Linked DNA regions of Homo sapiens. The protein of the gene in region 1 interacts with the protein of each later gene in a biochemical or structural test. Each region holds a gene or a part of one and is shown on either strand. Other genes may lie near its edges. The genes, in order: ABL2 and CAT.

What was found.
Region 2: the proteins of ABL2 (region 1) and CAT form a complex in vitro, tested with the Homo sapiens proteins (one study listed by BioGRID).

Annotation. Positions count from the first base shown.
Region 1 is NC_000001.11:179,210,918-179,227,661, reverse strand, and holds part of ABL2 (tyrosine-protein kinase ABL2), read left to right. Parts: intron 1-15,653; exon of another isoform or gene 15,654-16,744. UniProt on the Homo sapiens protein: Non-receptor tyrosine-protein kinase that plays an ABL1-overlapping role in key processes linked to cell growth and survival such as cytoskeleton remodeling in response to extracellular stimuli, cell motility and adhesion and receptor endocytosis.
Region 2 is NC_000011.10:34,451,536-34,465,216, forward strand, and holds part of CAT (catalase), read left to right. Parts: intron 1-541; coding exon 542-672; intron 673-1,554; coding exon 1,555-1,659; intron 1,660-2,265; coding exon 2,266-2,391; intron 2,392-4,475; coding exon 4,476-4,667; intron 4,668-5,129; coding exon 5,130-5,282; intron 5,283-9,715; coding exon 9,716-9,854; intron 9,855-12,569; coding exon 12,570-12,700; intron 12,701-13,681. UniProt on the Homo sapiens protein: Catalyzes the degradation of hydrogen peroxide (H(2)O(2)) generated by peroxisomal oxidases to water and oxygen, thereby protecting cells from the toxic effects of hydrogen peroxide.

The DNA.
Region 1 (16,744 bases):
ATGGAAGAATGGATTAGTAGTTTACAGGGAAGAAATCATCCAAGTAAGCTTCACTTTGTGGGAAGTGTTACTATGCATTAAACTTGGCCTAGTAGGCAATGGTGATCCTCTTGCTTTACTATCTTATTCGGTATGTAAGATTTTCCAAGAAAGAGGAAGTCATGAAGAATGGAATAGGAAGACATTTTGAGGATTTGGATCTATGGAGAGGGAGAACAATTTGGGTAGAAGAAACAACTTGAACGGGAACATGGGAATAGATATAATTTGTTGATGGGCTAGTGAGGAGACAGCTGTCAGGAATGAAGCATCATTATGAGTTGGAAGAAAAAGATCATAGAGCAAAAATTGGAAGAGTCAAGTTCTGGTTCTGGCTCCACCTGCCTGGGTGATTTTAGTCACCATCTTTGGGTTTCTTTATCTGTAAAGTGAGGAGGTTGGACTGGATGATCTCTAAGATACTTTCTGGTTTTAAGATTTTATGATTCTAATTAAGAAGCAGTAGAAAGAAAATTTTGATAGGCTGGATGGGACTGGGTTATGGAAAATCTGGCAGAGAAGTTTATATCCATTTACCTGATTGGCTAGTCTTTACCTGAAAGACTGGCCTTGAGTGGTGGCAGTGGAAATGGGAGGAGTAATTTCAAGGGTCCTTTCATTCATTCAACAAACAAGGGTTTTTTTTGAGCACCTGTTATGTACTGGATTGTGGGAATGTTGCTGTGAACATAACAGAGTCCCTGCCCTTTGGAACTTAAAGGACTTTATGATTTGATAGAGGATGAAAGAAGAGAGATCACTTTGGAGTATTTGTTAAGGGCATGAACTCTGGACCCATTTTTCCTGGATTTGAAACCTTGCTTGGCTGCTTATGAGCTTTGTGACCTGGGACAAGTTATTTAACTTTTTGTGTCTTGGACTCTTCATTTGTAAAGTGGTGATAATAATAGTACCTAGTATTAAATGAATAGTGGCTGGGCACATAGTATGAGCTAAATGTGTGTAGCTGCTGCCATTACTAATACTACTGTTATTATTAAAAACAGGAGTAATTCGGCCAGGTGCGGTGGCTCACGCCTGTAATCCCAGCACTGTGGGAGGCCGAGGTGGGCAGATCATGAGGTCAGGAGTTCGAGACCAGCCTGAGCAACATGGTGAAACCTCGTCTGTACTAAAAATAGAAAAATTAGCTGGGCATGGTGGCACGCGCCTGTAGTCCTAGCTACTCAGGAGGCTGAGACAGGAGAATCGCTTGAACCCGGGAGGTGGAGGTTGCAGTGAGCCAAGATCGCGCCACTCCAGCCTGGGTGACAGAGCGAGACTCTGTCTCAAAAAAAAAAAAAAAAAAAAAGTAGGGATAATTCAAAGATGACACCAGGATTTAGAACCTGGCTAACTGGGATGATGAAGATTCTATTGACAAGTTTGGAAGTTAGAAGCTGATTGAAAAAATGGGAATAGGTCGAGTTTATTGCCAAAGACTAGTATGAAAAGAAAGGAATTAGCAAATAATATAGGAAACAAAGGTGCAGTGAGTACTGTTTTTTAGACAGATGGGTTTAAAAAGTTTTTTTCTGTACATCATAGTTTCTTTTTTTTTTTTTTTTTTTTTTTTTTTGAGGCGGAGTCTCACTCTGTCGCCCAGGCTGGAGTGCAGTGGCGCGATCTCGGCTCACTGCAAGCTCCGCCTCCCGGGTTCACGCCATTCTCCTGCCTCAGCCTCCCGAGCAGCTGGGACTACAGGCACCTGCCACCACGCCCGGCTAATTTTTTTTTGTATTTTTAGTAGAGACAGGGTTTCACCGTGTTAGCCAAGATGGTCTTGATCTCCTGACCTCATGATCCGCCCTCTTCGGCCTCCCAAAGTGCTGGGATTACAGGCATGAGCCACCGCTTCCGGCCACGTCATAGTTTCTTAACCTCGGCGGCATTGATATTTTGGGCTGGCTAATTCTGTGTTTTGGGGGGCTGTCCTGTGCATTGTAGGATGTTTAGCAGCATCCCTGGACTCTACCCACTAGATGCCAGTAGCACCTTCTTTTTGCCCCTTACTTGTTATAAAAATGCCTCCAGACATTGTTAAATCTCTTGGGGGGCAGAATTGCCCCTAGTTGAGGACACCACTTAGAAATGTGATAGATTCTGAATTGAATGAATGAATGAATGAATTAGATTCGAAAGCTTCTCAGTGGATGTATCATTTGACCTTTACATGGTAAATGTAGGTGCTCGAATCTAGTGTACAAATTACTGTCTTGAGTTTGCCATATTGAGGTATTAGCACATAATTTCATATATGAATGTTAGGTCTGTTAGACTCTTGGGTTTACATGTAGGTTTTAATATAAGCCAAATAATACATTTAGTTAATCAGTAAAAAGGTACATACATTATGGAAATGGTTTATCAGAGTCCAGGACTTTTCTTTCTTTAGCTAAAATGGTCATTTTTTATCGTTAATAATATGTGGGTAAGCTGTGATAATAATTTGCCTTGCCAAAAGTGATTTTTGTGAATGTAATTTAGAAGGAACAAAAATAATAGAGCCATTTTTGGTATGAAAGGAGTGAGTGCTGTGTGACTTTTCTGAGATCTGCTATTTTTTTTGTCAACTCTTTTATTTTATGTTTTATTTTAGAGAAAGGTCTTGCTCTGCCACCCAGGCTGGAGTGCAGTGCTGCGATCGTAGATCGCTGCAGCCTTAAACTCCTGGACTCAAGCAATCCTCCTGCCTCAGCCTCCCGAGGAGCTGAGACTACAGGCACACGCCATCACACCTGGGTAATTTTGTGTTTTTTTTTTTTTTTTTGTAGAGACGGAGGTCTCACTATGTTGCTCAGGCTGGTCTCAAACTCCTAGGCTCAGGTGATACTCTGCCTCGGCCTCCCAAAGTGCTGGGATTATAGGCGTGAGCCACTGCGAGAGGCAAGCTCTGCTATTAAACCTTTCTGGTGAGCTGATGTTTCATGACTAATAATCTAGGGTTGAATACTTACTTGCTGTTGAATATCTCACATACCTTTTAACAGCTGAATGATTTTACTTTAGCTTCCCTCTCTCATTTTCTAAAAATTCTATTAAAAATTAACTTTAGGCTGGGCGTGGTGGCTCACACCTATAATCCCAGCACTTTGGGAGGCCGACGTGGGCAGATCACCTGAGGTCAGGAGTTCGAGATCAGCCTGGCCAACATGGTGAAACCCTGTCTCTACTAAAAAAATACAAAAATTAGCCAGGTGTGGTGGCGGGCACCTATAGTCCCAGCTACTCAGGAGGCTGAGACAGGAGAATCCCCTGAACCCCGGAGGCGGAGTTTGCAGTGAGCCGAGATCGCGCACCTGCACTCCAGCCTGGGCGACAGAGCAAGACTCCGTCTCCAAAAAAACCAACAAACAAAAACCCTTACATTATGAAGTTTGGAATAACAAAAATTTTTCCTTAAATCAAACTCATTATTTTAAGTGATCTGATTTATTTATTTATTTTTTATTTTGGATCTGTAGTTTTTTTTTTTTTTTTTTTTTTTTGTAGTGAGTAGGGTCTCACTCTCTTGCCCAGGCTGGAGTGCATTGGCGAGATCATGGCTCACTGCAGCCTTGACCTCCCAGACTCAAGTGATCCTCTCACCTCTCAGCCTCCTGAATACCTGGGACTATAGGTGCACGCCACCATGCCTTTCTATTTTTTTTTTTTTTTTGTAGAGACAGAGTTTTGCCATGTTGCCCATGGTGGTTTTGAACTCCTGGGCTCAAGTGATCTGCCTGCCTTGCCCTCCCAAAGTCCTGAGATTACAGGTGTGAGCCACCGCACCCGGCCAGTAGTTCATGTTTTAATCTTTGTGGAATGAAGGCTGTTGGCACCCCAGGTTGAAAACGATGCTATGGAAAGCACAGGAAGGCTGTTGTGAGGGAATTTTAATTGTGGTGACTTAATATAAGAACTAAACTTCATTTTTTATTTTTATTTATTTTTCTTTTTTTCTTGAGTGCCAATCCTGCAGACTAAACTTTTAAAAAAAAATCAGCTGTTAGATTTTTATTAATCTCCAAATCTGTGTAAGTTATAGATGTGTAGTTGGGGTCCATATTTTTAGCAAAGTAATAAGTTGTGGTACAGATTCTGTTCTCATAGCCCACTTGGCAGTAAAATTCCAAGTAAAGTGATGAAGTCTGAAGTTTCTCTGTAAGGGTCTTCAGCCTGCTTTATTCGATAGTTTATTTATTTACTTAGGTGGTTTTTTTTTTTTTTTGAGACAGGGTCTTGCTCTGTTGCCTAGGCTGGAGTGCTGTGGCATGATGATAGCTCACTGCAGCCTCAAACTCCTGGCTGAAGCCATTCCTGACTCAGCCTTCTGGGTAGCTGGGACTATAGGTGCGTGCTACCATGCCTGGCTAATTTTTAAATTTTTCTGTAGAGATGGGGTCTTGCTGTACTGGGCCAGGCTGGTCTTAAATTCCTAGGCTCAAGTGATTCTCCCACCTTGGCCTCCCAAAGTGCTGGGATTACAGACATGAGGCCCTGCATCTGGACTTTTTTTTTTTTTTTTTTTTTTGAGAGGGAGCCTTGCTCTGTCTCCCAGCCTGGAGTGCAGTGGCGCGATCTTGGCTCACTGCAACCTCCTCCTCCTGGGTTCAAGCAATTCACCTGCCTCAGCCTCCCGAGTAGCTGGGATTACAGGCGGCTGCCACCACACCTGGCTAATTTTTGTATTTTAGTAGAGATGGGGATTCACCATGTTGGTCACACTTGTCTCGAACTCCTGGCCTCAAATGATCCGCCCACCTCAGCCTCTCAAAGTGTTAGGATTACAGGCGTGAGCCACTGTGCCCGGCCTGTTTTTTTTTTGTTGTTGTTGTTATTTTAAAGGTATTTTAAATATATTCCTCTGAATATCATCTTTAAAGGATCTGACATGATTTTTGTCAAAATAAATCATAAGGTGTAACCAGTTTGTGGGTTCCTGGTGAGTTTCAGGCCAGGCGCGGTGGCTCATGCTGGTAATCCCAGTACTTTGGGAGGCCGAGGTGGGTGGATGACGAGATCAGGAGATCGAGACCATCCTGGCCAACATGGTGAAACCCTGTCTCTGCTAAAAATACAAAAATTAGCTGGGCATGGTGGCGCGCACCTATAATCCCACCTACTCAAGAGGCTGAGGCAGGAGAATCGCTTGATCCTGGGAGGCAGAGGTTGCAGTGAGCCGAGATCGTGCTACTGTACTCCACCCTGGGCAACAGGAGCAAAACCCTGTCTCAAAAAAAAAAATTAGCCAGGCATGGTGGCGGGCACCTGTAATCCCAGCTACTCAGGAGGCTGAGGCTGTAGAATCACTTGAACCTAGGAGGCGGAGGTTGCAGTGAGCTGAGATCACGCCACTGCACTCCAGCCTGAGGGACAGGGCGAAGACTCTGTCTCAAAAGAAAAAAAAGTTAAGTGTAAGCCAGTACACTGACCTCTCCATGAACTTTTCACAGTAGGAACTTTAACACTTTCCGCAGAGTATCCTGTTCTTCTAGGCTTTTCATAGAATGCGAAGTTAATGGCATGTGATGTTCCATAGCATAATCTGCTAAAAAGTGATCATCTCCTTGGAAGAAAAGCCGTGGGCTGCAATCACACATCCAAATTGACAGACATCTGAATGGATTCTATATAGAAAGAAAAGATTCGTGTCTTCTGGAATATGAATGTCCACTTTTAATAAATTCAAACAGATCCTGACATAAACATCATGGGTTTTACGTGACCCATCATTTCATGGATCCTTGGCACCAAATCTTTGGGCATTGTATAACCCAACCCACTGCAGTAGGGAGGAAACACCTTGAAAGGACACTCCTGGTATGAAATACGTTTTTTTTTTTTTTTGGTAAAATCCTCTATGGGAATAATTATCAATTAGGGGATAACCTGTGAAAAACTTCTCTGAGTGGTTTAAGTTTAAAAGATACTACACTAAATTGCCAGTATTGATGAACACATAAGTGTCTGTTGTCATGATGTAGTTGGCAATGGGGCAAAACTCAGTTACCCACCTGAATGCCATAATAGGTTGTTTTTGTTGTTTGTTTGAGACGGAGTCTTGCTCTGTCACCCAGGCTGGAGTGCAGTGGTGCGATCTTGGCTCACTGCAGCCTCCACCTCCTGGGCTCAAGCAATTCTTGTGCCTCAGCCTCCCAAGTAGCTGGGATTACAGGCACACGTCACCATGCCTGGCTAATTTTTGTATTTTCAGTACAGATGGGTTTTCACCATATTGGCCTGGCTGGTCTCAAACTCCTGGCCTCAAGTAATTCACCTGCCTTGACCTCCCAACGTGCTGGGACTACAAATGTGAGCCACTGTGCCTGGCCAGTTTTCAAGGTCAGGTTTTTGTATGTGTCTAAAAAATCTCGTTGGATTACATCACTATAAAGAAGATGTTAATCGTCCGAGGACAGTGCTAACAGTTTGTCTTCTCTTTTAGCCCGTTGGCCTACTAAGAAAAATGTGAGAACCTCATATCGCCATCAAGACTTTTTTCACCCCAAGTAACTCTAATGGCCTGTCTGGCTTTCACATCTGAGGGGTGGGAGGTCACTAGGATAACCAGAATTGGATTTTGATCAGAGCAGTTTGAATGCTCTCAAAATGTGAAGTGAAAGCCTCATCTGTAAATTGGCTCATACTTGTAAAAGTACATCCAGTCTACATATTCTGTCACATTGTAGTGGGGAAGGCTGAGAGGTACCACATCAGGAGGAGAGTCAGGAGTGGCAGCAGCAGGAGACCCCATGTGAGAGATCTCAGTGGGAAGGGCAGTCTGGAGAGCCAGGGCCATCCACAGCAGCTCAGAAGCTTGCGAACTGCAAGTTCTTCTTGATTGATTTCTTCTGAGTGAAAAGACCTTCAGTTTCACCAGTTGAACATTCAGCAGTATGTAGCTGTCAGAAATAATGCTACTGAAAACCAGACTTTCAGACTGGCTTAAAATCCTGCCATATACTGCTTATAAAACACATACCTGTAGAATTTCAGCAGAGATTAAAGCACTAGCTGAAGTTTGTTTTCTGTATTCCATGCTTTAGTCAAAACACTCAAGATTTGCTGTGAACTACTCCATAAACAGAAAAAAAGACATGGTTTGGTAATTTCTTCCTTGGTAGATTTTCCTGACAAAGTGACCATCGCCTAAACAAGGCACTGTCCTGTGCGGCACATACCCAGCTCACAAGTGGCAGGCAGCTGGTGCTCAACCTGCTTTAAACGGAAAACAAAAACCAAACAAGAAAAACCAGCATCTCCCCACCATTGTATGTTTTTATTCCTCTTTACTTCAGTCTCTTTCAAAATAGGGAATGATAATGTTTGTGTAGTTTTTAGAGCTTTTGAAGAAGACCTTTTATGTCTTTCATCTCACTTGACCTTTACAACTACTCTGAAATAGGTGAAGCAGGTATTAATCTTCCCATTTTGTAGATGAAGAGTTTAGAAAATTAAGTGACTTCTTGAGGTTACATAGCTGTTAAATGATAGAGCTGGGACTGATAGTTTTGTCTCCAAGTCTTGCCATAATGTGGAGATTTAGAGAATGTGGGTTTTAAAATCAGTTATAATTGGATATAAATCTTGCTTTGTGTCTGACATTGGTACATGGTTTATCCCTCACAACAGGTTGTTGAAATAATTAAGTGATAAAATTGTACGAGACTCTTAAGTGCCAGGCACTGTGGTGCTCAATAAATATCAGTTTTATTGTCATTATTTACCTCAAGATGATTGTGAAGATTATATGAGTTGTATGTGAAAATGTTTTGTAAACCTAAGCACTGCTATTGTTATCATTGTGATGGCATGCCAAAGTGTAGAATTGCCTTAGCATTTATATTTATTACTTCATTTTCTCTTCTTATTAAGCTACTCTTATTAGAGGACTTTCAGAAAGCAGTAAAAGGTAAGGGAATTTTGGGGATCTGAAATCACAGGAGAATCTGAAATCACTTTAGGTCTACCTTCCTTGTAAGGTAAGTGATATCCTCTCTAGACCATTTGTCTTTGTCTTAGGGACTGGGTATCAGTATATGTAGTGCCTGGTTCTTGTAGACATCTTTTTCTTCCATCAAAGAACTTGAACCAGAAACACTGGCCAATGCAAATTTAAAGTTGATAGAGACTTCATTCTAAGTTGGCCCATTTGTTTGCTGGTTAATAGTTAATGACTTTTTTAAATGACTTTGTTGTAACCTTCTTCATCTGACATCCTTTAAGACCTTTTTTTTTCTTCTTCTCTGTGTTATTTTTACCTCTGGATGTAAAGTTTCTTCTTAAAGGCTTGTTTAGGCCAGGCATGGTAGCTCACGTCTGTAATCCCAGCACTTTGGGAGGCCGAAGCAGGTGGATTGCTTTAAGCTCAGGAGTTCAAGACCAGCCTAGGCAACGTGGCGAAACCCTGTCTCTACAAAAAATAGAAAACCTAGCCAGGCGTGCTAGTGCACACATGTAGTCCCAGCTACTGGGGAGGCTAAGGTGAGAGGATCACTTGAGGCCAGGAGGTTGAGGCTGCAGTGAGCCATAATCACGTCGCTGCACTCCATTCTGGGCGACAGAATGAGACCCTGTCTCAAAAAGAAAACTTGTTTAGTGTGATTATCTTCTTGAAGTTGTGAGTCAGATGGGCTTTTTCTTAATGTGGCACTGCACATACAGAGATTTCAAAATACTTAAGAACCTTTTCCATGTTAACAGATGTCTTCTGGACGAGGTAAATATGTAGCTACTTCAAATCATATAGAACAGTTCTGAAACTTGAGCGTGGAGAGCTTGTTAAAGCAGATTGCTGGGTCCCACCTCCAGGGTTTCTGATTTAGGGCTGAGGAGGAGCTCAAGAATTTGCATTTCTGGCAAATTTTCAGGTGTTACAGGTGCTGCTGGTTGGGGACCATGCTTTGAGAATCTCCTGCTCATGTGAGATTAAGAAGAGTACTTGGCCTGGTGTGGTGGCTCACGCCTGTAATCCTAGTGCTTTGGGAAGCCAAGGCAGGTGGATCACAAGGTCAGGAGATCAAGACCATCCTCCTGGCCTACATGGTGAAACCCCATCTCTACTAAAGATACAAAAATTAGCTGGGCGTGGTGGCGTACGCCTGTAGTCCCAGCTACTCGGGAGGCTGAGGCAGGAGAATTGCTTGAACCAGGGAGGCAGAGGCTGCAGTGAGCCGAGATCGTACCACTGCACTCCAGCCTGGGTGACAGAGCGAGACTGTCTCAAAAAAAGAAAAGAAAAGAGTACTTGATCAGAGGTGATTGAATGACTGTCAGAAAACAGGATGTAATGTACTAACTCTCTTCAAAACTGGTTCAGAAATTCATTTGTTCCTAGCCTATTAGTGTCCACATGCAAGTCACCACAGTCTTATACCATTTTTTTGGTGGTTTATCTCTAAAAGTTCGTACATTAGAGGTCTCTTGAGAGACACATTTTTGAAAAAAATCTGGAGTTATCAGGGAAAGGGGAAGTAGAAAACAGTTCTGCTGACTCATTCTTGAGCAGATTGGGCTACAGTTCCTGGAAGAATTGGGTAATGAAATAATTGCCATTTATTGAGGGCTGTGTGCCAGGCATGTTCTAAGTACTCAATATCTGTTTTTTCTTTTAAAACTCATAAAACCCTCGTTGCTCAAATTAAAAAATATTAGAGACCAAAGAAGATGGGATGTCTGTTTGTGATTCTATAGTTTTGGTATATGCTGGTGCCTAGTTACCTTTTAGAATATGTGTGTATGTAGTTATACATATGTATGTATATATATAATACAAAGATTTTTAGGTATTTTTTACCCCATCTGTCTTGACCAGTGATGAGGTTTTCAGACTGGTAGACCAGGGTTAGATTTGTATAGTATGTGGCTATGGATTGAGTCTTAGATATATATGATGGTCTAATGAAGGAGAGGTGGGAACTCACCATACCATTTGGAATCTCATGGTAATGTTGAACTCCTGTCTTAATCTTTAGGCTTAGTGTTACTAATATTTCTTTTCTTTTTTTTTTTTTTTGAGGTGGAGTCTTGCTCTGTTGCCCAGGCTGGAGTGCAATGGCACGATCGAGGCTCACTGCAACCTCCACCCACTGGGTTCAAACGGTTCTCCTGCCTCAGCCTCCCGAGTAGCTGGGACCACAGGTGCATGCCATCACACTCGGCTAATTTTTGTGTTTTTAGTAGAGATGGGGTTTCACCATGTTGGCCAGGCTAGTCTTGAACTCCTGACCTCAGGTGACTCATCCACCTTGGCCTCCCAAAGTGCTGGGATTACAGGTGTGAGCCACCACACCTGACTGAGCCACAGGCCGAGCGGCTCTTTTTTTTTGAGATGGAGTCTGGCTCTGTCACCCAGGCTGGAGTGCAATGGTGCCATCTTGGCTCACTGCAACCTCGGCCTCTTGGGTTCAACCTCGGCCTTCTGAGTTCAAGCGATTTTCCTGCTTCAGCCTCCTGTGTAGCTGGGATTACAGGTGCACGCCACCACACCCAGCTAATTTTTGTATTTTTAGTAGAGACGGTTTCACCACGTTGGCCAGGCTGGTCTTGAACTCCTGACCTCAAGTGATCCGCCTGCCTTGGCCTCCCAAAGTGTTGGTATTACAGGCGTGAGCTCCCACGCCTGGCCTCCAATCATCTTATATTAGAATCTATGTAACTGGCCGGGTGAGGTGGCTCATGCCTGCAATCCCAGCACTATGGGTGGCCAGGGCAGGCAGATCATGAGGTCAGGACTTCAAGACCAGCCTGGCCAATGTGGTGAAACCCCACCTCTACTAAAAATACAAAAATTAGCCGGGCATGGTGGCGTGCGCCTGTAGTTGCAGCTACTCGGGAGGCTGAGGCAGAAGAATTGCTTGAACCCGGGAGGTGGAGGTTGCAGGCCCAGATCACGCCACTGCAGTCCAGCCAAAAAAAAAAAAGAATCTGTGTAACCACATGATATATTTAGCTTATTATTGCAATATGCAACTTATAAAGACCTTTTCCCCCAGGTGATAATGGCAGGAGAATTTTTAAAAAATTTTAGCTTAACACTCCAGAGCATTTTCTATTTTTTTATTCATTTATTCTGTACTAATTGCCTATGTTGATGGCTCTGAGAGAATTTTTAGATACAATTTAGACAGAACTGCTATCTAAAAGAATGTTGCTGATCAAATAGATGTTGATGAACATCCTTACGAAACAACTAAAAAGAGATGTGTGTGTCTGTGTTTGTGAGGATATTTTGTACAAAAACTCTTGGTTGCCTTTTTGGATTGAGTGCATAATTTCAGTATGTAAATTTGTTGTCATTATACTAATTAGAACATTTTGTCAGTATTTTCAAATGAAATTCACTCAAATTCATGGATAAATACACATTAAATATATTACTATCCAACGTTTAAACTTAGTTGCTTAAAAATATGAAAACAGCACTTAGCTTTTTTCCCACTTGCTGGTTGCTGTAAATGTGCTGATTCTGCCGTGGTAGAACTGCCGGCTTCTCTATAGTGAACTCTGCCATTATTGGCTTTTGATCCAGCAGAACGCTAAAGCTGGGCAGGCCCAGGCCATTTGTATTCTCGGGTTTGCTTTCTAGGGAGAAGAAGTGTTCAAAAACCTTTCACTTCATGTGGACAAGGTCAAAAAAATATTCTGGAGCTTAGTATAATACATAATATGTACACATGTAATTTTGTTAACATGTTTCTCTCTGTGTGCTAATTCCAGCAAATTAAAAAAACAGTACTGAGTTAGGACTGAAGATTACCACTTAGCATTTTGTTTCTAGGTAATTGCTAAGAAAACATTAAAAAAAACTGACAATACTAACAAGTACAATTTGTATCACTCATCTGTTCCTTATAGGAAAGAAAGGTTGATACCTGAAGGTTTTTGTTACAGTAGCTTTCTTTTACTCATTTTGAAATTGGCACTTTTCTTTTCTTTTTTTTTTTTGAGGCAGAGTCTGGCTCTGTTGCCCAGGCTGGAGTGCAGTGGCATGATCTCAGCTCACTACAACCTCTGCCTCCTGAGTAGCTGGGATTACAGGCATGTGCCACCACGCCCAGCTGATTTTTGTATTTTTAGTAGAGAAAGGGTTGTTAGCCAGGCTGGTTTCGAACTCCAGGCCTCAAGTGATCCACCCACCTTTGCCTCCCAAAGTGCTGGGATTACAGGCGTGAGCCACAGTGCCTGGCCATGCATTTTTCAGTTGCATAAAAATATACAAAGGTATCTCAAGGTTAAAAAAATAATAATTCAGAAGCATATAGACTAGACATGAAAGTCCCCTTTGACATTCTTGGCCCAATACATATTCCCTTATTAGAAGAAACTACTGTTTGTGGTTCGATAGGTGTTTCCCACACCCAGCCATTTCAGAACTTGCTGTGTATTTACATATATATGAGTATATATATTAACACTTCTCTTGCCGTTTCATAAATGGCATTATACTGTATGAATTTTCTCCCCAATTTTTTTTTTTTTGGAGACTGAGTCTTATTCTGTTGCCTAGGCTGGAGTGCAGTGGTATGATCTCGGCTCATTGCAACCTCCACCTCCTGGGTTCAAGCGATTCTCCTGCCTCAGCCTCCCTAGTAGCTGGGACTACAGGCGCCCGCCACCACACCCGGCTAATTTTCGTATTTTTAGTAGAGAAGGAGTTTCACCATGTTAGCCAGTCTGGTCTCAAACTCCTGACCTCAGGCAATCTGTCTGCCTTGGCCTCTCCAAGTGCTGGGATTACAGGCATGGGCTACTGTGCCCGACCCACAATTTTTGTGTGTGTGTTTATTTATCTGGAAGGTCTTTCTATTCCAGTATTTGTAGATTTCTCATCCTTTTTGACAGCTTTATAGTGTCCCATGCTTTAGCCATATATTTAACCACTTTCTTATTGATGAATACTTGTTTATAAGAATATTTAAATATCTTCTCCATCTTTCCTGTGTTTTTTCTTTATGTTTGTAATTTGAATCCATCCGAAGGGTATATATATTTGAGCTTGGAACAAACAATGTTTTTCCATTGTATTAATTTGTGAATAGTCCATCAATTCTCCACTGATTTGAAAAGCCATATTTATCATATATTCTCATATATATATATATATATATATATATATATATGTCATTTTAAAACTGTTGTTCCATTGATCTTTGTCTCCTCCTGCACATTGTTAATATACTATTTTAATTATTGTAAGCTTATATAGTGTGTATGTGTATGTGGTTAGCTCCCCAATCATTATGTTGTTCTTAAAATTTTATTTAGATGTTGCATCTTATATCTTCCAAAGATCTTTAGGATTATGTTGTTAAGATTTAGGAGATTTTGATGGTCATATCAAATTATAGGTTAATTTGGGGGTGAATTGATGTTGCATTATTGTGTTTTTATGGCCAAGAACATGACATCCCTTTGCCAGTCCAGGCAGATCTTTTTTTGCCCCTCAGTAAAATCTTTTTCATTTTCTTAATCTTGTTTTTGGACATTACTTGGTAGGTTTATTAGTGGGCATTTTATGATTTTTGTTGTTAAGTATAATCTTTCCTAATTGCTTATTGCTAATGTATAGGAAGCCTTGATTTTGTATGTCCATCTTGAGTCTAGGTTTGGTTGCCTTACTTGTATTGCATCTAATAACTTTGTACTGATATTTTTATTTTATTAAAACTGATATTTCTAGATAATTTTTTTCTTTTAAGAGATAGGGTCTTACTCTGTCACCCAGGTTGGAGTGCAGTAGTAGCATGATCATAGCTCACTGCAGCCTCCTGGGCTCAAACAATCCTCCTGCCTATAGCATCCCAATGTACTGGGATTACAGGTGTGAGCCACCACGCCTGGACTCTTTTAGTTATTTTTACCACAGTAATACATGCAGGCAGTTTTAGAAGTCAAAGAATATGACAAGATTTAAAATGGAAAAAAAATTAGCAGCACCCATCCATTTCCTCCCTATATTGGTACTGTTGAGGATGGCAGCTAGTAGCCACTGTGGCTCTTGAGCACTTGAAATGTCCTTTGTCCTAACTGAGAAGTATTGGCCAGGAGTGGTGGCTCACACCTGTAATCCTAGCAGTTTGGAAGGCTGAGGTGGGAGGATCACCTGAGCCCAGGAGTTTGAGACCAGCCTGGGCAATATAGTGAGACCCTTTCTGTATTTAAAAATAAATAGGCTGGGCACGGTGGCTCATGCCTGTAATCCCATCTCTCAGGGAGGCAGAGGCGGGAGGATAGCTTGAGCCCAGGAGTTTGAGACCTGCCTTGGGCAACATAGCAAGACTCTGTTCTCCACGAAAAGGAAGAAAAAAAAAGACAAAAATAAAAATAAGCGTAAAAATAAATAAATAAATACAAATAAGCTAATTGAGAAGTACTGTAATAAAATACACATTATGTTTCAAAACTCAGTATGGAAAAAATGAATATAAAGTACTGCATTAATTTTTTTATATTGATTACATGTTTTAAATAATATTTTAGATAGACATATATATAAAAATTAATTTTTTGAATTTAAATTTTTGATGTAGTTACTAGAAAAAGTAAAATGGCATTTGTAGCTTGCATTATATTTCTTTTTTTTTTTTTTTTTTGAGACGGAGTTTCACCCCTGTTGCTCAGGCTGGATTGCAATGGTGTGATCTTGGCTCACTGCAACCTCCGCCTCCCAGGTTCAAGCGATTCTCCTGCCTCAGCCTCCCAAGTAGCTGAGATTACAGGCTTGTGCCACCACGCCTGGCTAATTTTGTATTTTTAGTAGAGACAGGGTTTCTCCATGTTGGTCAGGCTGGTCTTGAGCTCCAGATCTCAGGTGATCCTCTTGCCTCGGCCTCCCAAAGTGCTGGGATTATAGGCATGAGCCACCACGCCCAGCCAGCTTGCATTGTATTTCTTTCTTTTTTTTTTGAGACGGAGTTTTGCCCTTGTTGCTCAGGCTGGAGTGCAATGGCACGATCTTGGCTCACCACAACCTCCGCCTCCCGAGTTCAAGCAATTCTCCTGCCTCAGCCTCCCGCGTAGCTGGGATTACAGGCATTTGCCACCATGCCTGGCTAATTTTGTTATTTGTAGTAGAGACAGGGTTTCTCCATGTTGGTCAGGCTGGTCTCGAACTCCCGACCTCAGGTGATCCACCTGCCTTGGCCTCCCAAAGTGCTGTGATTACAGGTGTGAGCCACCATGCCCTGCCCAGCTTGCATTATATTTCTAATGGACATTGCTGCTTTAGATGGTAAGACCTGTGAGAACAGGAACTTGGTCTTGTTCACCCTTGTAGTCCCTGTACCTTTAATGGTGCCAGGCACTCAGTAGTATTTAAATGATTGATATATTCAGCAAGTAGGATGATGTGGTTTGGCTCTGTGTCCCCACCCAAATCTCACCTTGAATTGTAATAATCCCCACGTGTCAAGGGTAGAACCAGGTGGAGATGATTGAATCATGGAGGCAGTTTCTCCCATGCTGTTCTCCTGATGGTAAGTTCTCACCATGTCTGATAGTTTTATAAGGGGCTTTCCCCTTCACTTGGCTGTTCTCTCTCCTGCTGCCCTGTGAAGAGGTGCCTTCCACCATGATTTCAAGTTTCCTGAGGCCTCCCCAGACATGTAGAACTGGGAGTCAGTTAAACCTCTTTCCTTTATAAATTATGCAGTCTCTGGTATTTCTTCACAGTAGCGTGAGAATGGACAAATACATAAGGAGAGAGTATTTTCCTCATTGTACACTCAGAGATATTGTACCTGGCATGTTACAGTGCAGATTTTATTCCACGGAGGTGCTTTGAACTAATCTGAGTTTTCTTTGCAGTTATTGATTGGTAAACAGTTATTTAAATTTTTTTTTTTTTTTCGAGAAGGATTCTTGCTCTGTCACCCAGGCTGTGGTGTGATCTTGGCTCACTGCAACCTCCATCACCCGGGTTCGCAGTGTTGAACAGGCTGGTCTCGAACTCCTGACCTCAAGTGATCCACTTGCCTCGGCCTTCCAAAATGCTAGGATTACAGGCATGAGCCACAATGCCTGGCCTAAATTTGGTTTTATTCTCCTGTATATGTTTTTCCTTTGATTACTGTATTTTTAGTTTAATTGCACTTATAAAAATTTTATTTTTATTTTTATTTTTTGAGACGGGATCTCACTGTGTTGCTCAGGCTGAAGTGCGGTGGTACAGGCTCACTGCAGCCTTGACCTCCTAGGCTCAAGTGATTCTCCCACCTCAGCCCCCTGAATAGCTGGGACTATAGGCACATACCACCCCACCTGGTTAAATTAAAAAAAAAATTTTTTTAGGGATTACATCTCTTTTGTTGCCCAGGCAGATTTCAGACTCCTGGGCTCAAAGCAATTCTCCCGCCTCAGCCTCCCAAAGTGCTGGGATAACAGATGTGAGCCAGCAGGTCCAGCCTAATTGCACTTTTAAGTCTTAGACTGAAAACTTTATGAAATCCTATCTTCATCACTATATGTCTTGTTTTCTGTTTTATTTTGTTCTTTCATTGACCCTGATATTTGGAAAAATTCTAATGCTTTTATAAGTTCTTTGATCTAATTGTTTCAAGTCTTCTGTTTCCTGAAATTATTAACTATCTTTAAAGAGAAAAGTCATCTTGGCTATATGCTGTGGTTGTCAAGGTGGCGTCAGCTCTGAGCAAATATTTTTCCAAGCTTGCAAGCTTGAGTATTCTCAAGTCTGAGGTCATGCTCATCTATTTATATTTAAATA
Region 2 (13,681 bases), on another chromosome or scaffold:
TGTTTCTCACGTTACAGAGATAGTATTAGATCTATCATACTATATTTCAACATACCTAGTGCTTCACTAGTTCCGTTTCTGTGTCAGTCTCTGCATTTTAAAAATACTGTGGAATGTAAAAATAAATGAAATTAAGAACTAAGAACCAATATTTTAACTCATTTTCTTAATGTTAACCTCATCATTTTGACAACTCACTTATTCTGTTTGTCACTACTTTAAGCCTCATAATTATTTTCTTCCCTTATTTTAATTAAAAGTTCAATTACCTGTTTGAACAAAGTTATCTTATTATGGTAAATGAATGACATTGTCAGCTGTTATTACATGTGTTCTCTTATTGCTCTCAATTAATTATTTTGTTTGATTTGTGGACTGAATTAGCTGGTGGGTAGAAATAATAACCCGGGCACTTAAATACCTAATTTAGTTCTTGGAAGTGGATTAGAAAGGATGGATCCAGGTGCTTCTTTATGTCTCCAGGCTTCTTGGATGCAAAGTGCTGTGGCTTATGCTTCCTGTTTCCATTTGAATATTGTAGCTGGAGAATCGGGTTCAGCTGACACAGTTCGGGACCCTCGTGGGTTTGCAGTGAAATTTTACACAGAAGATGGTAACTGGGATCTCGTTGGAAATAACACCCCCATTTTCTTCATCAGGGATCCCATATTGGTAGGTAATAGAGTATTTTGCACTCAACAAATGTTTGTTGACTTAAATTGATTTCAAATAGGTTGGCATTTGAGGAGAAGCCGTGGGAAAGGCAGAAAGAAAAGAATGCGAGTTGTCTGGACTACTTTTTTCAACACATTTTTCTGTATTTAATAAGATAAAGTAAGAACAGTTACCATTGGTCTTAGATTTGTCATTTTAAGACAGATTGACTTAATGGGAAGTGAGTTTAGTTTTCCTTGCAGAGCATCGAAGATTAGTAAAAAGAGGGACTTTACTTTGGAAACAAGCAGAGGGTGTCTCTACATGCTCTGAGTCAGCAGGAGGGGGTGTGTGTGCGTGCGCGCATGCGGGAGGGTGGGTATATTTTTTCCGTGAAGAAATACTATAAATCCCAGCACTTTGGGAGGCCAAGGCAGGCAGATCACTGGAGTCCATGAGTTCGAGACCAGCCTGGGCAACATGGCAAAACCATATCTCTGCAAAAAAATACAAAAATTAGCCAAGTGTGGTGGCTCATGCCTATAGTCCCAGCTACTTGGGAGGCTGAGGTGGGAGATTTGCTTGAGCCCAGGAGGTCAAAGCTGCAGTGAGCTGTGATCATGCCATTGCAATCAGCCTGGGTGACAGAGTGAGACCCTGTCTTAAAAAAAAAAAAAAAGAAAAGACTATAGTTTTGAGTATATTTGAAATACTTTAGGGTATCTTAGATGCTAGTTGTCTATGCTGAGTAAATTTCATATTATGGTTTGGCAGTTTAAAATTCTAGGATTGTATTTAGAATTATAATCCATAAACCTAGTAATAGGCATATATAATGAAAGACACCATAATTCCTGTAAACTTAGTTTTTGGATTTTTTTCTCTCTTTTTTCTATTTAGTTTCCATCTTTTATCCACAGCCAAAAGAGAAATCCTCAGACACATCTGAAGGATCCGGACATGGTCTGGGACTTCTGGAGCCTACGTCCTGAGTCTCTGCATCAGGTATGAACCCTTTTTTGCCATTGTATTATATCACCTGGGATGCAGTGTTTAATTATGCCTCTTCATAAAGTGTCTCTCCAGTTTTGGCTATTTTATTGGAATCAGCTTCCTCAGATTTCTTGATCGTGAAGAGTTTTGTAGTAACTGGCTTTACTAATCATCCCCCATTCATCGGCCTTAAATGATGATGATGATGATGATAGATAGCTAGCAACATTGTCAGTTGATATTTAGCAGTAGTAAGGATGAAAGTCTGTAGTGTAAGGTAAAGCTCTGTATTAAGGAAGTGGGGGGAAAGTAGTACCAAACAAATTTGCTATGCAAATAAATTTTGAATAACAAATTAGGCCAGTTTTCAGGTTGTTTTGGCTTTCCTTCATAGAATTTTGAGTCATAGTATTAGTGATTTGCATATCATTTTGATTTAAAATTTTTCTGTTTGTTATTTTCTACAAGTGAAATAATAATGGTAACCCTTCCCATGGGAAATTGGCTAGTATGTTTTATGTCATTAAGGGACTTTCTGGAAACTAAGGAATATCTTAAAAATCAAGGATGTTTTGATTTAAATGAAAACATTTTAGGCTTTATATTTCTGTTCTTTAGGTTTCTTTCTTGTTCAGTGATCGGGGGATTCCAGATGGACATCGCCACATGAATGGATATGGATCACATACTTTCAAGCTGGTTAATGCAAATGGGGAGGCAGTTTATTGCAAATTCCATTATAAGGTATGTGTTACCTTTGGGGCAGAGGGTACAAGGCTCCTACCGCATACCTCCTTATTTTTCCTGAAGGATTGAGCAAAGATTAAGGCTTCTCCCACTTTTCCCTCACCTCCATCCCCAAAGTTGGGAAGTATTGATCTCATTGATCAGTACTGATTTTGTTGGCTACCATCTGAGGACCTTGGAGCGTATCCCAATCTCATTATCACTTCCAACATCCAATAGTGTCTTTCCAATATCATTTCTTTTAACTTTTTAAGTCATCCATCTATTTACTTAGCATTTATTGAGGTTTTATTATGAACAAGGCATATAAGTAAAATCAATTACAAATGTCAGAAAACAAAATTATACTGTTTTTAAAAATTTGCATTCATATAGCCAGATCAAATCAGTTACATCTGGGGAGGGTTTTGAGAATGTTTTAATCAACTGAAATATTATAAAGGGCCCTCTTTTGGTATAAGCATGGCATTTGTTACAATGAGCAATATTGCCAGTGAACCCTGGCATGTTAGTGATATTCCCAGAGAACTCCCAAGGGCTAGTCAGAAACAAGCCTGAGAACCTCTGTTTCCAAATACTGCTGCTAAGATAAGCAGAAAGAAGTGGGCTCGTGACCAGTACTGGATAATCTCTCTCTTAGTGACATCCAAAAGCCCTATTTTCTTCTATCCTGCTTTCTTCTTTATCTGAACAATTTAATGTAGGTATATCAAACAGGAAAACTATCACCTCTTTTTATATTCATAACTTGGATCTATAATATTTGACAAGGAAAAATTTTATGAAACAGTTGACCCATTGGCTTGTAATTGCCAAAAGGGTCAATGTAGTATTACTTAGAATAAGACTAAGTGGTTGTATCTAGGACAGCCAGTCTAGTTGGTAGCCTTGGAGTTATGCCAGCCTGAACTCAAATTTCTACTCTCCTAGATAATTGTGGCCTTGGGCATAGTATTAAAAGTTCTTTGAGCTCCAGTTCTTTTCACTGTGAAGTTGGCATAATATTACCAGCTATACAAGTCCTGGAAAGATTGGATTGCTTGTGGGTCTTTTATCCTAGGGCCCTAAGGTAGCCTGAGATCTACATGGATTCATCAGTCTGGATTATTCTGACCTAAGATTATTCTTTTCTAAACCTAAAGGATTCAGTTAAAATCAGAAAGGTATTGCAGTGTTATTGTACTACTTAATATATTAGCTCTTTGGGCGATCTGTACATGGTGACCTTCATTGTTTTAATCCTGAAGGTGGCTTTACTTCTTGTTCAGTAGTAAGAGTTCAAACCTTTTCACTGATGAGACAGTTGGGATTTCTGTGGTAGAAATAGACCAGCGTTCAGAGTTGATTTTTGCTAAGGAAATCTTTCTGCGGCACTTGGCTTGTTGGGAGGTCTTTGAGAATAAGATCACATGGTCAGTCCATCAAAGAACAGTATGATATGATAACAGGAGCACTTATGAAGTGACACAGCTTCTCTGGGTTTTAATGTCTTGCTTGGAAAGTCAGAATATTAATTTTGCCTGCTCATAGTCAGAGAACTAGTTCCAGGTGGCTGTACTGAAGTTCTTTTCAACTCTATGAGCTATGATTCTATGATTTATTAAAAAAAAAAAAAAAAGGAATAGGACAGGGGTGAAGGGATACTGGCCGAGCACAGTCTCAGTAATTGATTTGAGCTGTCATGAAATGGAATTAAAACATTACTTCATGATAAAAGGCAAGTAGTCCTTTAATTTTATTAATCTTTTGCCTACTTTTAAGTATATTTTGATTTTTCTGATTTGGAAAGTAACATGAGTGTAAAAATTCAAATAATAGAATACATAAAGGGAAAGATAGGACTGATTTTAAATATGAAATGTGTAGATGGGATTCCCTTGACATTTAAAAGTATTGGGATAATCAAGTAGAATTTCTTGTTGATAAATTCATTAGTATCAGATTTGAACAATAGAAGTATTGTTGTAAAGAAAGTTCATTCTTTGGGCAGTGTTACTCATAATCCTTCAATGAATTACTGATGAAATTTTGATAACTTTGACAATAAGTTTCCATTGGAGCTTCTTTCTTTCATTTTGTAGACTGACCAGGGCATCAAAAACCTTTCTGTTGAAGATGCGGCGAGACTTTCCCAGGAAGATCCTGACTATGGCATCCGGGATCTTTTTAACGCCATTGCCACAGGAAAGTACCCCTCCTGGACTTTTTACATCCAGGTCATGACATTTAATCAGGCAGAAACTTTTCCATTTAATCCATTCGATCTCACCAAGGTGAGTCAGTAAACAACTATATTGTTTTCTTTTTTAAGTCTCTTCTTACCTAATTAGAAAAAAAATCTAGTCAAACAATTATAATAATGGGGAAGTCATATACAAAATACAGAGGGTACCACTTCAGAGTGTCCTAAGCTGTGAATGAGTGCTTACCAGCATCTTACTTCCACGTTCCTGTTTGTCATTTCATTGAGTATGTGTATGTGGCTTCATATATTGTTATTAACAGGGAACAGATTATGAAAAGCTGATGTACTTTTTCCTGGGGAAACTGTCAGTATTTACCACTTACTATTGTGAAAGATTTAACTAAGGCACTCATCTTAAATTCTTATGTTTTATTGGATTTAAAAATTATTTTCATTGGCTTGATTGTATTTGAAATCTGGTATTTTTGTGGGTAGCTTTGATTTCCTTCAGTTGATTGCCTGGTAATTGTGAATATGACATCATTTTCAGGTTTGGCCTCACAAGGACTACCCTCTCATCCCAGTTGGTAAACTGGTCTTAAACCGGAATCCAGTTAATTACTTTGCTGAGGTTGAACAGATAGCCTTCGACCCAAGCAACATGCCACCTGGCATTGAGGCCAGTCCTGACAAAATGCTTCAGGTGAGCCTGGTGGATTGAGATGTTCTGAGGCAGGTGTCCATGTGAGCATGCACACACAAAATATGCAGCTTGGCATGATCTTTATGTGAGGAATTAACAAGAACATTACTTAAACTTTAATCTGGGTGCTTGGTTACCTTGTGGGATTCACTGAGGTGAACTATTCTTCAATGAGCATTCCTTGAGTAAACCAAGTATAAACAAAAGTCCATGGTAAGATCCCTACATATGTGAAGACAAGAATACTTACTCTCTTAATTAAAAAAAAAAGACATAATAGAAATACCTTAAGTATTGATAGAGTGAAGCATGGTTTGTTCTGTCTGTAGCTGAAGTATGGTTAATTAATTATAATACCTTGGTAAGCCTAACTTTATTTTCTTGTTCTTTTTTTTTTTTTTTTTTTTTTTTTTGTGACAGAGTCTTGCTCTGTCGCCCAGGCTGGAGTGCAGTGGCATGATCTCGGCTCACTGCAACCTCCGCCTCCCAGGTTCAAGCGATCCTCCTGCCTCAGCCTCTTGATTAGCTACAGGCGCCCGCCACCATGCCCAGCTAATTTTTGTATTTTTAGTAGAGACGGGGTTTCACCCTGTTGGCCAGGCTGGTCTCAAACTCCTGACCTCAAGTGATCTGCCTGCCTCCGCCTCCCAAAGTGCTGGATTATAGGCGTGAGCCACCGTGGCTGGCCTCATTTTCTGTTTCATGGTGATGCTTGAATTTTTCCATTTGTAAAAAGAGATCTAGGGATGATCTTTATGAACTACATGTATGCTGCCAGTGATAAAAGCAGTGGATTAACCATTCACCTTGCTAATGTTAAGCCATCAGTATGTTTTACATCACTTTTTAATATCTCTTTCAAGAGTACCAAGAGTGAAAAATTGTACTTTGGATCAGAATCAGTAAGAAAATAATTGGCTTAATAATTACTGTATAAATCAATCTTTTGTGGTTTTAGACTGTGACCTTGAAACAAAGGTTAAAGATTGTACCCTAAATCAGACCACAGCGACTGAAGGTTACTTCTTATGTAAGTATCTGATTCCAGTTCAGGTTTCAGTCTGCATGGAGGACAAGCTAAGATTCCGTTTTTAAAAAATAACTTTTTTGCTTATGACATTGGGGAACATCTGAGGCTTTTATAGAAAGTAAGTTTTTCATTAGTTTTTAGTCCAATTCAACTGTTACAAATTGAGTACCTGTCTGTTGTGTATGGTGGACTGTCTTGGGTGCCATAATGTAAGGCAGAATGCCATGGTGATCCAGAAAGCAAAATTTTGTCTGATAGGAGGTCAGCCACGAAGTTTCATGAACGAGGTAGCATTTGAGATTGTTTTGAAGAATAGATAGGATTTTGATTTTTAGTAGGTAAAATGCGGCAGGAGAAGGACATGAGTATAGGCACAAAGGTGGGACATGTTAGGTGTGTTGAAACTATAAACAGTCACTCTCTCCTGAATGAGAAGAATAGAGTTTGGGTAGGTTCATTGAGTATATGTCAGAGGGGACCTTAAATGCTTGAGTAGGAGTGAAAAGCTTTCTTCAGTTTTGAGAAGTGTGGTCTGGGATATATTGAGTAGAATCACTCCTCTTGGTGATAAATAGAAAAAGCGACAACTAGGGATTGGGAATAGCAAAAGGAAAGTCAGGCAGTTCTCAGAGGAAAAGCAGAAGTTTGCATTGAAACCAGGGAGTAGAGGAAGCCAAAACAAGGTAATCCTGGGCCCTAAAACTCCCTACCTGGTGGCTGAACTGTGAGAGGATGAGGCTAATGGGATTTGCCAAGGCATGAAATTGTCATGGGCAGAGCAGAGGCTGCATAACCCTGGTTACCCAGGGAGGGAACGGATTGAGGAATACAAGGTTACCTAAACTCTTTTCACAAGAATCCAAGTCACCATGGGTCTCTGGAACCACAGTGGGACCGTGAGGCAGTCAGCAGCACTGAGTCATATAATTTGAAGAACAATGAAGATTTGAATGGAGAACTAGGCCCCCGGGAAAAGGACTGCAAAGCAAATACGTATTCTCTACATTCCTAAGAAAGCAAATGTCTAAGGCAGCTATTCAAACAGTGGGGAAGAGAGTTCTGAAAAAGGATGACAAGTAGAAAGTAATATAATTTCTGTTAGTATTAATTTTAGTTCTGGCAAATATATCTATTTTAAATTCAGTGTACTCTTTATAGGTTGTTTTTTTTTTAAATGAGTTTTAGAAACTGTTCGAAAGAGCTTTCATAAGTTTGTCGAGTTATTGTTTCTAGCCTAGCTTTCCCCCATCCTTCTTAGGTCATTTAGCTATCAGTTCCAATACCATGGAGCCTGTGAGGAGCCATACAGTTGGGGAAGGACTGTTGTACTCATTTAGCCATTTGGTGACCATTAAGGAATGATTTGAGATTTTTTGAGTAGGTGAGTAGGGAATATGTAGATTGTCTTGTTGGACAGGAAGTGGAAAGCCAGTTAGGGGGGCTTTGGGGTTATTCCTGCTGAGAGCTCATGAGTATTGTAGCCTAGGCAGTGGCGGTTGATATATTAATGGGCAGTGTTTACAGGTGCCTTTTAACAAGGTCATGTTATTAAGTTTTATAACTTTATCCAAAGTGGTGAGCCACACCATGGTGAAATGGACAAATAATATAATACAAGTCATAGAGAGACTGTCCTGTCCCCTGAGTACCTGAGGACACAGGTGCAGCCTTTCTTGCTCTCATTCTCTGCATTTTGCCAAGAGTTGGAGAAGTTGGGCCGGTTGCTTGGGTGGGAAAGGCTTTCCCACTCACGCAGGTCCAGCAAGGGAGTTCAGGCACAGGGCCTTGGGGAAGGCCTAGATTCAAGCTGGTGTCAGGGTATGGCCTCACTGTGCCCATTTCCCAACCTTTGTTGGTCTCCACCCATAGGTGGGGTAAGGTTGCCTGATAAACACAGGGTGACACAAAATCAGAATTAGGTGATAGAGGCTACATCCAGGAGCTGCCCATGGCAGGATTGTATCTCCTATCCTGTTGATGGAGTCAAGAGCACAACTTTTTGAGCCAAAGGAGACAACCAGCTTCCAACCTATAGCTGAGTTTTGGTCATGGCCGCATGGCTAGTCATCTAAATATGACCTTAGGCTATTTGAAATGATGATAAGAGGGAGTCATTCAGCCAAAAGCAAAATATTGACAGAACACTGGGACTGGATTAAGTCTGTTGGTATCAGTGATTTGGAACAAAGTTATTGCTTAAGTTGCCCTATTCAATTTGGTTTTTATTTTGCCTCATAGAATTAGGGATATAAAAATACTTTTAAGGTTCAAGGCCAATGATAAATTCAATGGAAGAAAAATTGCTCATAGAAAAGGAGTATGAATAATGAGAATAGTTCAATAATTAGATATTAAGATTAATGCAGAATTTATCATAAAGCTTTTGTTTGAGCATTAACTGAAAGAAATTTCAAGATGCTTGCCATCTTTGCCTTGATTAACATGGAACATAATTTAATCTTAGATTGATTACCTTTGGCATTGTAGGGCTTTCATTTTGAACCACAGATTTTTTGTTATTGTTGTTTATATCTAGAAAGTCTCAGAGCTCAAAGTGTTTCTGAGATAATTCAGAAGGCAGCATGGGAGTGGGCGGTACTTTTTTTTTTTTTTTTTTTTTTTTTCTGATCTTGCTTTGTTGCCCAGGCTGGATTGCAGTGACACGATTGCAGCTCACTGCTGCCTCAATCCCCTGGGCCAAGCAGTCCTCCCACTTCAGCCTGTTGGAGTAGCTGGGACTACAGGCACATGCCACCATGCTCGGCTAATGTTTTAATTTTTTTTTTTGTAGAGACAGGTCTCGCTGTGTTGCCCAGGCTGGTCTCAAACTCCTGGGCCCAAGCGATCCTCTCACCTTGGCCTTCCAGAGTGCTGGGATTATAATAGGCATGGGCCACTGTGCCCAGTTGGAAGTGCTTATTTGAAGAATTTCCCATGCTGTTGGTTTTGTAGAAATGTGTTGCTTTTTGTAAAGAGCAAATGATTGGTTCCTTCCCTGGAGTGGGGGAATGAGGAGGAATAGAATTAATTCAATATTTCAGTTAGTTAACGTTCTAGCACATTTATTTTATAATGCAATACTTCCTTGGGAATAGGAAGTAATACTGTATAAGACAAGACACTAACTTGTTATGCAGAAGGAAAAAAAAAAGATATTATTACCAAAAACAGATGTGAAGATTTATGGTTGGCCAGAGGGCCTGGGAAATTCAGAACTGTTCAGTTAGGGAGAACTCGTTTCATAAGAGTAGAGGCTTCACTCTTAAGTAGCGGGAAAGGCAGAATTTTGTGGTAACCATGTACAGAGTGCTTTGTACTTCAAATTTCAGAATGAAGTTTACAGCCCATTCCTATGTTATATGTTACTGCCCCTAGTCAGTGTCTATTGTATTTATTACTGCAGGGCCGCCTTTTTGCCTATCCTGACACTCACCGCCATCGCCTGGGACCCAATTATCTTCATATACCTGTGAACTGTCCCTACCGTGCTCGAGTGGCCAACTACCAGCGTGACGGCCCGATGTGCATGCAGGACAATCAGGGTAGGCCTAAAGACGTTGGGCTCCCCCTGCGTGGGCAGAGGGCACGTGGAGCAGATGGGCGGGAGGCCAGGCCAGTGGCTCTCAAGCTGGCCCCGCAGGACCTCCTGCTTGGTAAAGGTGCTCCCCAGGTGCTGCTAACTGGGCGCTTTTTTGCCCAGCAGTGAAGATTTAGGCTGCCTGAGGACTCTCCATGCTTTTTATCTATTTTATATATTTTATTGAGCATTTCCACCTCAGATGTTACTTGTATCCAGTAGTTAAAAGCAGGGAGAAAGATCTTTCACACTGGCTAGAGTACAGTAACATCCAGCTTGGGAGTTAGGTTTTGAAGACACTTCACCAAAATGGACAATTCCTTAACTCACTGTGAAATCACCAAGACTTAGACCCTTGGAAGTGCGAAAGCCAAGAGTTGGAGTCTTCTGTTTCTCTTTGCAGTTCTGCTGTGGCCCTGGAGGAGCAGGTCTAGCTAGAATTTGGAGGGGAGCTAGAATTAGCAGGGAAGGCTGGGGAGAAGAGAGTAGGGGAGGCAGAGCAAGTCAAAGGATTCCCCTCCCTTCATTTTTTCCTAAGTGAATAAAGTTAGGTGAATCAACTTACCACTTTTTGTTTTTTGGAACTCATTTATCAAACTTAGGATCTTTTTCTTTTAACTACTTTTTTTTTGGTGTCGTATACAAACAGCCTCTGGTTCTAATTACTTTTTCTAATAAGTCAAGCAGAATGCTTGATTAAAGTTTTTTCCTTTTACTATTCCACAGTTTAATATAGATCTTAGTTATTTTCTTTTCCCATTTAGGACACGTGTTTTAGTAATATAGACTGCATGCATTGATCCCTTTAGAAATTTTACTGATGATTTATATTTATAGCCACAGATGTCTATATTCAAACAAAGTTTATTTTTCTATGATAAAAATAATACAAGTGTCCTAAAGAAAATTTGGAATATATAGGAAAAAGAAGAAAAAAGAAAAATTCCCATATAGTCCCAACACCCAAAGGTCATAGCTATTACATTTTGCTATATTTATTTATCTATTTATTTATTTTTTAGACAGAGTCTCACTCTGTTGCCCAGGCTGGAGTGCAGTGCATGATCTTGGCTCACTGCAGCCTCTGCCTCTGGGTTCAAGAGATTCTCATGCCTCAGCCTCCCGAGTAGCTGGAAGTATAGGAGTGTGCCACCACGCCAGCTAATTTTTGTATTTTTAGTAGAGACAGGGTTTCATTGGCCAGGCTGGTCCTGAACTCTTGACCTCAGGTGACCCACCCACTTTGGCCCCCCAAAGTGCTGAGATTACAGGCATGAGCCACCGCGCCTGGCTTGATTGTAAAAGTAGAGCATTTGGGCTGTGACCCTGAAGCTCAGTGAAAGAGCTTAATTGTTCCTGTGGTCAGTGCTTTAAAGACAACTACCACTTTGAGTAAAGGTCAGGGCTCATTTGGAAGTAGGATTTTAAAAATTAACTAGGCACATTTCAAAGAGCTAGTTCTTAATGAAGAAAACACTGTGATGGCTGGTTTTTGGAGCATTTTGCTTTTCATGTAGATGTGACTGATCTGTTGAATTTGTTGAGTGAATAATTGGGCTCTATAATAGTATGGTGTTCTTCCTTCCCCTACACACACACTTGGTGTCTTGATGAATGTCATACATAGGCACCTCTTGATTATCCACTGTGGATAATCTATTACGGCAGTGAGCTGGCTAAAATTCCAACCCCAGATTGGTTTGCTCAAACCACTTAATATGTTTCTGGGCCACTCCTGTTTAGGCAGTGTGTGCTCGGGTAATGAAAGCTTCTGCTAATGTCAGCCAAAGCATAGTTGAGAAAATAAATATGCTAAAACGAAAAAAAAGCCTTATAATTTATTTCAAAAGTCATAGAAAATATTTTGATTGTATTTGTCACTGTTTCTTATAAGTCCAGATAAGTAAGTGCTGATATACAATTACCACATTTTAAAAAATTCTTTGTTTATTGGTCTGTGGAGGGTATGAAAGTGAAGCTACAATGGAACAAAGTCATCATTGTCAGTAAAGGAGAGATACCCTGAGAATCCTAAAAACACTTTACGGAATAGCAAAGTAGAGTTCTGTAATGGAAATACTGTATATGCTGGGCTGGAGGAGACAAAAAACCCAGAGTTCCAACCCCATATCTACCACTGGCTACCGTGTGACCTTGCAGCAGTCAGGTCCCATCACAGAGCTCCATGCTTGTGTCTGTAGATTCAAGGAGCAGAACCAGAACTTTCAGATTTCCCTCAAGAATTTTGTGATGCAGTGTTTGAATTGAGCCCAAGTCCAAATGACACAATTTTTCAAGTCAATTTTGAAATGTGTCTTTGAGCCTCATCCCTATATGGTGGCCAAATCAAGCCTGTATAAACTTCTACATGTGCTGTACCCCTCAGAAGACTTGATAGATGAGACCCTTTGAAGTGTCAAAAGGGACTTTGAGATTCATTCATAAAGTGCGGCAGCCTGTGCAAGCATTTAGCAGATGGCAGCGTTCCCTAAGAATCTTCATACTACCTGTAGCTAAATGCGGGAAATTAAAAATAATATGTGTGCGTTGTGTTTATATCTGTGTATGTGTACGTGTGTATTTGATTACCACTTGAATTTATTTCTCATCACAGTGATTATTTGCAGACTTACTTGACTTTTCTTATTCCTAAGTGCATCTGGGTGGTTTTGTTTTGAAGGTGGTGCTCCAAATTACTACCCCAACAGCTTTGGTGCTCCGGAACAACAGCCTTCTGCCCTGGAGCACAGCATCCAATATTCTGGAGAAGTGCGGAGATTCAACACTGCCAATGATGATAACGTTACTCAGGTAATGACTTCTCTTTATCTGCTATGGAAGTCACCTGCTAATTCTCCTTGTCAATGCCTGCATAATCCCCCTCCCTGCAAATGCCCCAACTGTCTGATGTATCTTAAATTGAATTCAAGGAAGACTCATCTGTAATAGTAAATTGGGCCCCTTACTGGGTGGAGTTGAAGGGTTATATTACTCTGGTCTTTTGCCTCAAAGCATGCAGACTCCGTCTCAGTTTCTTCAAACTTTATTGAAGGGATATGGGGAGGGGGCATTGGGGAAACAGTTATCTCATGGGAATTTAAGAAATGAGCATGTACAGCTTACGTGGAGACAAATCTAAGAATCTGGGCAGGACAGTCCAGGTTCAAGGACTAGAACTAGAGATCCAAAATAGCTCCAGGAGCCTCGGCCACAAGAGTGTGGGCGTTTCCACTGCAGGGCTCGTCCTTCACGTGGCTTATTCTCCATCTGTCTGCTTCTGCTTGCCAATGCTAATTGATTATTTTTACCACAGCTTCCTGTTTTCTCCTATCTGCGTCAGAGCTTCTGTTTTATCATGGTTGTGGCTCTTCCACAACAATGGAAAACTCTCCTTTATGGCGTCTTTCTCCATTATTACTTTTTTTTTTTGGACCACCTTTTACTCCTTCTCTCAACATGTCTATCTCTAGATTCTAGAGAGATGGAATCCTATTGACTTGGCTAATCTTTTCACCCCAGGTTGCACCATTGGCCTTGGTCAGGCTCTAGTTAACCGCCCCAGGGCAAATGCTCATCCTCTTTCCAGTTGCCTATGGCTGCCCTAAGAGCTGTTTCAGCACATGCTATGAAGGAGGCCCTTGGACTTGGAAGGGCTGTAGGTGGGCAGCTGCCTCCTTAATGTGTCCAGTGCAACTTATACCACACACAATAAAATAATAAAGTTAAAGGTATAGTTGTTCTAGAGCTCTGTTTGAGCAGTTAGTGTTAAACTTAGTATTTAAATTAGATTAG